Linked DNA regions of Homo sapiens: all the other regions are linked to region 1. The links come from fine-mapping of genetic effects on gene expression. A gene starts in region 1. Each other region holds a variant in brackets. All regions are shown on one strand. Distances are from middle to middle. Region 1 holds the start of KLF12 (KLF transcription factor 12). Region 2 overlaps KLF12 (KLF transcription factor 12). Region 3 has its middle 31 kb from the start of LINC00402.

Evidence for each region. PIP is the estimated chance that this variant, and not a neighbour inherited with it, causes the effect. A credible set is the group of variants that fine-mapping cannot tell apart.
Region 2: its variant is the best candidate, but not a certain one, in a credible set for the expression of KLF12 in atrial appendage (GTEx, PIP 0.69).
Region 3: its variant is the best candidate, but not a certain one, in a credible set for the expression of KLF12 in fibroblasts (GTEx, PIP 0.65).

The regions. Positions count from the first base shown.
Region 1 is chr13:74,132,861-74,135,360 of GRCh38, forward strand. It overlaps KLF12 (KLF transcription factor 12), which reads right to left and starts at 1,544. Exons shown (of 8, transcript NM_001400136.1): 1 at 1,112-1,544. RefSeq lists enhancers at 22-201, 232-281 and a silencer at 1,291-2,500.
Region 2 is chr13:73,933,734-73,936,532 of GRCh38, forward strand. All of the region lies in intron 3 of KLF12 (KLF transcription factor 12), which reads right to left. Among named protein-coding and RNA genes, the nearest start is that of KLF12, 200 kb to the right of the region's middle. The variant G/A (reference allele first, on the strand shown) is at 1,476.
Region 3 is chr13:74,199,077-74,201,925 of GRCh38, forward strand. It overlaps a transcript of KLF12 not described here. Among named protein-coding and RNA genes, the nearest start is that of LINC00402, 31 kb to the right of the region's middle. The variant CA/C (reference allele first, on the strand shown) is at 1,113.

The sequences.
Region 1 (2,500 bases):
CTACCCAACAAAAGCAGGACTGATTCTCCCCGTAGGGGAGCATCTAACGTGAACACCAACTAATGTCGCGGAGGTCAAGTCTGAACCCTCAGAGTGAGCTTCTGAGGCAAGAAGTGGCTCCCAGGCCGGCTCTGCGGGTTCCCGGCCCGGGTGGACGTACAAAGTTGCCCCTTGTCAACTCCGGCCAGGTCCCCCGTAATTGAAAATAACAGCCACCGGCCAGCCCCTGGCTACTTGCATGGACCAGGCACTGTAGCAAGTGACAGTTACACATCATTACGACCAGAGACAATAATGAATGTAGCACCAGGAGCACTATTCATGCCAGCAGTGTCATCTCCGCCTTAACCCCTTCCCCTCCACTCTCTCCAGCGCGCACACACAGCCCACACGGTCCCGGTGCGGAGCTATTCATCCACCCCGCTCGAGGCCGGGGGGCCAACTACTTCCACGAGCCCCCCCTCCCCCCCAAGTTCAGCCCTGGGGTTTTATTTCACATCCTTGGCAACTGTCAGGCAAACACTGCAACCAACAATTCCACTAGGGGTAGAAAAACACTTGCTTAATTCACGTTACTTGATAACTTCTTCTGGAAAAAAAAAATTAGGGGAGGTGGGGAAGAAACCTCCTTCTTTCTTCTCCACGAATCCGACCGACGCTACTTGCTTTGCAACAGCATCGCCCTTCCCCGGCCCCCTCCCGCTTCCCAGCACTTTCCCCCTTTAAGAACACAGACCAACCAAAATGATTTAACTTGAGCAGATGACAGAAGGAAAATAAAACACGTTAAGAGAATACGGTCTGATTTGGGATGGCAAAAAAAAAAAAAAAAGAGGAGGGGGTTGTTTATTTTGATAAGAAACGGAATCGGCACAGACCTGAACAGAAGCTGCAGAGCAGGAGAAATTGTTTTCTTTCCCTCACACAGAGTCCCCCTCTCTCTCTCCCTTTCTCTCTCTCACACGCGCGCGCGCACACACACACACACACTCGCACACACACGGCGTCACCCGCGCACACGCACACGCAGAGCCTCTCAGCGGCTCTCTGCAGTTCTCAGGAAATGAATGGGGGGCAACCCGGGGAACTGTTGTACTTGCAAATGACTTACCCGGATCACATGATGCGCTAAATGTAGGGTGGGCCGGTGGGTGGAGGCTGCCGAGTTGCGAGCCCCGGTCTAGTGTGGGGAGCCTCGCCAGGCCCGCATCGAATTACCCCGGGGCCCAGCCGAGGGGGTTGCAGGACGCCGCTTCTCCTCCCTCGCAGCCCGCAGCTCAGGAAACCGGAGAGGCGCTTGGGGTGGGGTGGGGTGGGGTGCTGTGAGGGGGGGGGCCGAAAACAAGAAACCCCCAAACAAAAGAGCTCCGGGTCCTCCTCCCCAGAAACAAAGCCCCGCCGCTGCCGGCGAGCCCCGGGGTGGGGCCGAGGGCGGGGGCGGCGGCGGGGAGGGGCTCGCTCAGCAGGCGCTAAGTCGCTTTATTGCCATAAAATGGGGCCCCCGAGCCGCTCCGCCCGAGGATTAGGAGGCGGGCTCTGAGTGTGATGGTTGAAATCCCCTGTGGGAAACTAACCCCTCCCCGCTCGCAGAGGTAGAAGGCAACACCCACTGCCCGGCCCTCGCCTCCCCGCCCGGACCGCCGGGCTGGGTCCGCGGCGCCTCCACCCCGCCCCACCCCGCCCCACCCCTGCCCCCGCCCTCCGGCCCCGGGCCTCGGCAGCGCTTCCCTTTCACCTGCACCACTTTGCTGCGGCACCCCAAATAACCCACACATGGCCCTGGGAGCTCGGGGAGTCGTCGGCCGAGGGGGCCCGCGGGGGCTTGCGGCGGGAGGGACCCCTGGAGAGCAACTCGCTGGGCAAGGACTCGCGCCGAGCCGCGAGAAAGTCTCCTCTTTTGTGTCAGAGCGCGCCAGACAGGCTTAGGAGAATTCGGGGACCCAAAAAGCGTGCAGCCCGCTTGGGCCCCCACCCCTCGCCGCACCCGCCCGGGTGGGGGCGCGCAGTGGAGGGAGGGGGCTGTCGCCCGGGTCGTCCCCGCGGCTCGCCCGCCAGCGAACTTGGAAAGGTGTGGGCGGAGCCGGCCGGGACTGTGGGGCAGCTCGCGGGGACCGCCCCTGGGCGCCGGGCATCGCCCGCGCCGGGCAACAATGGGGTCAGGCAGGGGCAGCCCCGCGGGCGGTGCCCCCCGCGCGCCGGTGGGGCGGGCGGAGGGCCGGGCGCGGCAGGCAGGGGAGTCATTGTTTGGGTTCCGGAGCGACGCACGTTGCGGGCGAAGCGGGGGCGCCCCTTTTCCCTGCGCTTCACCTTGGCGGGATGAATGGGGGCGAGGCGGAGATGCGCGCCTGGCCTCGCCACCCCAGCGAAGGGGCCCCTGCCTGCGCCAGTTCTGTGGGAAAGCACGCAAACTTGGAGGACTGGGGCAGAGGAAGCGGGATCTGCAGACCCCCGCGGGGCCCGGGGGCGGCGGGGAAGGGAGTCCAGCTCCACTGCCCCACGC
Region 2 (2,799 bases), 200 kb before region 1:
CTGCTCAAGTCTCCCCTTAGCCAGTTTAGTAATCCATATTTGCTCTCCTATACAGTTATAAATCCTAAGCCCTCTGGTTCAAAAAATGTTTTTTTTTAAATTCTTAATTGTGGTAAAGAACATATAACATAAAATTTACCCTCTTAACCATTTTTAAGTGTACAACTCAGTAGTGTTAACTATATTCACAACGCTGTATAACAGATGTCTAGAGCTTTTTTCATCTTACAAAACTGAAACTCTATACTCACAGGACAACTCCCTATTTCCCTCTCCCCCAACACCTGGCAACTTCATTCTACTGTCGAAGATTTTGACTACTCTAGATTCTATCCTTTGATTACTCTAGAATGTACCATCTTGCTATCTGTACTCTGTTCCTTTTGACTTTTCTTCTTTTAGATAAATTGAGGGGTTTTTTTTTGCAGTGTTTCTGGTTCATCTCCACTATTGGTCCTGACAACTGTATCTGGTTGTTTTGTGTGGGTGGCTGCTCTAGAATTTACAACATAAGGCTTTATCACAAGTTATCACTTACGACTTACTGACCTACCTTCAAATAATACCATACCACTTCACAAGTGGTGGGAGAACTCTACCTATACTTCCTTCCATAACCCTGTCCTGTGCTGTCGTTACTACTCATTTTCATTCAATATGTCACGAACTCCACCATGCATTGTTATATTTGCTTTCAGCAGTCAACTGTCTTTTAAAAAGATTTTTAAATTCTTTTATATTGACCCATATGTTTACCATTACTCATTTCCTGTATAAATCTAAATTCCTACCTAGTATCCGTTTCTTTCTGCCTGCAATTTCTTTCTTCTTTCCTGACTGATTTCAGATAAGAAGACTGATTTATCTTCCTTCATGTGTAAGGTGTATTTTTTGCCCCCTGGCTGCTTTTAAGACTATGTCCTTTATTACTTGTTTCTAGCAATTTGATTATTCTGTGTTTTAGTGCCATTTATTCTGCTTGGGGCTCATTAAACTTCCTGGGATTTGTGAGTTTATAGTTTCCATCCCATCTGAAAAATGTTCAGCTTTTTTTCTTCAAATATTTTTTTCTGATCTCCCTCTTCTTGAAAGTCCAATTGTAGGTATGATAAGCAACTTGCTATTGTTCCACAGCTGCTTACTGAAGCTCTGTTTTTATCTTAAGCCTCTATTTCTTTTCTCTCTGTGCTTTGTGCTTTATTTTGGATAGGTTTTTATTATTTATTTATTTATTTATTTATTTATTTATTTATTTATTTTGAGACAGATGCAGTCTTGCTTTGTCATCCAGACTGTAGAGCAGTGGCACGATCTCAACTTATTGCACCCTCCACCTCCCGGGCTCAAGTGAGTCTCCTGCCTCAGCCTCTTGAGTAGCTGGGATTATAGGCATGAGCCACAACGCCTGGCTAATTTTTGTATTTTTTTATTTTTTAGTAGAGACAGGGTTTTGCCATGTTGGCCAAGCTGGTCTC[G/A]AACTCCTGACCTCAAGTGACCCACATACCTCGGCCTCCCAAAGTGCTGGGATTACAGGCATGAGCCATCGTGCCCGGCCTACTTTGGATAGTTTTTATTGCTACGTATTCAGACATTGATCTTTTCTTCTGCAGTATCTATTAATGTCATCCACTGTATTTTTAAAATTTTAAATACAGTATGATATGGTTTGGAAGTTTTTTTCCCCTTCAAATCTCATGTTGAAATGCGACCTCCAATGTTAGAGGTGGGCCTAGGGAGAGGTGTTTGGGTCATGGGGGCGGATCCCTCATTAATGGCTTGGTGTTGTCTTCATGGTAATGAATGCGTTCTCACTCTGAGTTCACAAGTTGTTATCCTGGCACCAGCTCCCTCTCACCACATGATGCACGAGCTCCCACTTTGCTTTCTGCCATGATTTATTTATTTATTTATTTTTGAGACAGAGTCTCGTGTTGCTCAGGCTGGCGTGCAGTGATGGGATCTTGGCTTACTGCAACCTCCACCTCCCGAGCTCAAGCAATCCTCCCATCTCAACCTCCGGAGTAGCTGGGACTACAGGCATGTGTCACCATGCCTGGCTAATTTTTGTATTTTTTGTAGAAATGGGGTTTCACCACATTGTCCAGGTTAGTCTTGAACTCCTGCGCTCAAGTGATCCACCTCCCTTGGGATCACAGGCGTGAGCACTTGGCCTCAGGTATTTCTTTACAGCAATGCAAAAACAGACATACATGGTGTATGTTTCATCTGTTTAATTTTTTATCTTTTTGTACCTTCCATTTCTCTTCTCATCATTTTCATGTTTTCCTTCACATTTGTGAGCATATAAGATACAAAATAGATGTTTTAAGATCTTTGCCAATTATTTGTCATTTCTGGATGTGTTTCTATTGATTCATTTTTAAAACTTGGTTATAAGTTCTATTTTCCTGCTTCTTTGTACATCTGGTAATTTTGATCGGATGCCAGACATTGTGATTTTTACATCATTCAGCACTAGATCGTGTATTCTTTGGAGTGCATTTTTGTTCTGGTATACAGCTGAGTGACTTGCAGATCAGTTCGGTCCTTTCAATGCTTGTTTCTAAGGCTTGTCAGGGTAGGTCCAGAGCAGTCTATTCCAGGACTCAGGGCCACTAAGCTGTGACCCTTCCAAGCCCTCTTCCCAATGCCTCACATATGAAGAGGTCTCTCCACCCTGATTTCTGTCAGCTTTATGTGAGCTCCAAGAATTGTTCAACCTACTGCTGTATGGCCGACCTTTCCTTGCCTTCCTCCAATACACAGGAAGATAAGTACTCACCAAACCCTTTAGTGGGC
Region 3 (2,849 bases), 66 kb after region 1:
ACTTCATTCTCACAGGACAGCCAGAGACTGGCAGTTAGGATATTCCTGCAGAAGTCAGTGCGGATCGAAAGGTCATTCATTCCTGAAATCCCTGGGCATAGCCCTGAGATGCCTTCTAACCCAAAAACTCCATGGTCTTGAAAATTCCTGACATATCCGAAACCATCTTGGGAATGCAGGTGGAGAAGAGTGAAAGGACTAACGATTTACTTCAAAGTGACTGCCCCAAAGAAATGATATACTTCAATTCAACAGTCACATTGTTCTCATTACCCAGAAGTGTGGTAGCTTGAGAGCGAAATTAGATAAAATGTAGGAAATAAAGAAATTACATTTTTTTAAACCTGACTGGTAGTGCATGAATTATTAGCCCTGCTGTACACTCAATAAGTGGTGACAATAAAAACCATGCCTGGCATGTAGTGCACTATTAATAAAGGCTTGCTGAAATATTAGGAGGAACTCACAAGAATATTACATCTCAAATATTGGCACACAAACAGAGTTAGGATGTACAGGACCTGTAGAGGCTCTCTCTACTTGCAGGATGGCAGAATCACAACTTTATTGCCCAATATTTTAAGTGAAACAAAAGAATTGTGTAAGAGTCATAGCCATGTTGATTGTCAATAACGTCCTGAATACATGATCAGATAGAAAGTTCTCCAAGTCATGGGAATGGGCCTTAGGAGAGAGGATTTGAAATTTATTCACTTTTAGATTTGCTGGGCTTCCCAAAAAAATGGGATACAACAGGTCGTGGTGATCTGTCCCTGAACTCTACACAGAGACTTCATCTTAGCAATCCCAAGCCCTCTCTCAGGTATTACCTGTGACTGTTGATGACATCTAGTAAGTAATGATCACTAGTCATTTTTTTTCAGTAAACACTTATAGCATCCTACTTAACTTCTGGGTGCTGAGGCCTTAAAGATAATTAAAGTTGATTTTTAAATTTAAAGAGCATTCTTCCCACTCAAGGAGATCACACGGCAGTGGGAGAAACACAAGGGTAAACTGAGAGACCAAGCTGTGATCATTTGCATAATGGCAGAGAAGGGAGCTAGAGAGGAATGGATGTGGGGACATGGCTAACCTTTTCTAAGCTTGCT[CA/C]GGGGGGGGGTTTCCTGAGAAGGCCTAATTGGATTCTTTTAGCCTGAGTCCTGCATAATTCAGAGTTCACCAAGGGTGGATGGTAGATTCAGGCATACCAGAGGATGGAAGCAATGAGGAGAGAAAAAGCTATATGTTTATTGGCAGTAGAACTGACCGGCTGGGGGAACTTGATGTTTCTGTGATTGGAGCATGAAGCATGAGTGTGTTAAGCAAAGGAACAGAAAAAGTCTGCAGGATCATATTATGTGTCATGGAAGGGTTTAAAGATGGAATCATCTGCCTGGATTTCGTCTTGGAAATTTTGTTCTAGGAATTAGATAGCCGGTAGAGTGGAGGGAAAAGACTGAAGATTGAAGAATGTAAAACCAGCTTGCAAAAGCCCTGGTGAGAGATGATAGTCAAGATCTTCCGATTGCCCAAGTCAGACTCACTCAGATCTTTCTGAGAAAAAGGGGATCTCTTCACGTGCAAACTGGACATAGAGATCATCAGGACTGGTTAATCTCAGGTCTGCCACATGAATTCAATGTCATAGAGAGTTTCTGCTTCTCTCTGTGGTTATACACCTCTGCTCCGGAAAAACTAAAAAACTGAGCGAATGGCCCTTTCTCTCAGTTTTTTAATTGCAAACCCTATAAGGTATTTGGCGTATTAGTATTGTCCTTACCAAGATGAACTTTATGGGAATGTCTATTAATTTGGTTCCCTTTTGGTTCTGGAGCCCAACACACAGATGATTTTAGGTTTTATTCTATGGCACTAGAAATGTCACACTCATTTGGGTGCTACTATTTTATTAAATGAAGGTATACTTGCATAATCTTTTTGTTTTTTAATATCTGATTCTTTTCACTATCTGCACATCCTAATCAAAGATGCAGTTTTCGTTCTCAAAATGCCTTCTCTTATTAAATTATTTTTAAACATTAAAAGAAATGTGTGTGTCCCAGATCAAATAGAGAGCCTATTAGAAGAGTTGAGTAGGATACAAGGAGAGATGTATGTTCTAACATTTCTATCTTCTGCATCATTTGTAAATCTTTTTTTCCACATTGGCCATGTCCAGTCTAAACCTTTGGCAGCATAGAATGATGTCTACAACACCAGTCTGTATTGGTCACATCCTCTTGTTGTAATGTAAGGTACCGTAAAGCTCAGAATGTGCCTACGTAGGTAAAATCCTTTTCCTTTTCTTCCCCTTCTTTCCCTTCCTTTCTCATCCTGATCTTAGAATAAGTTTGGCTAGATCTTTTCAAATTATGTTTTGTTCTCCTTGGTTAAGCAAATGTAAAATTCATGTCTACTTATTCCCAATAAGCTCTTCCCCAGGACTCCTGAGACACCTCCTATAAGTTCTTTTTGATATAATCCTTCTTTCCCCATACTCTGATTTTGAATATCACTGGATCTAAAGTTACTTTTGAATCCTCATGATGAACCTGCCTCTCATTCTACTCTTGGCGGGAACAGATAAATGCAGAGATGTAATTCAGAGGGACCCAGGAGTTGGGAAATCCAGGCTTCTCTGGCTCCTCTCAGATGGTTCCAATTGCTAGTTTGACAGTCTTTGCCAAGCAGGGCATTAATTTTAACCATAGAAACCTGGCAAGTCAGACAATTCAGCTTGACATTGCAATTCAGCAGTGGGAACTATTAGTTTTGGATCTGATTTTAAGTGGTCTCAGAATAACAGAAAGGGTTTCCTGAAGCCAAGTCATATGGTGGCCCTGTGT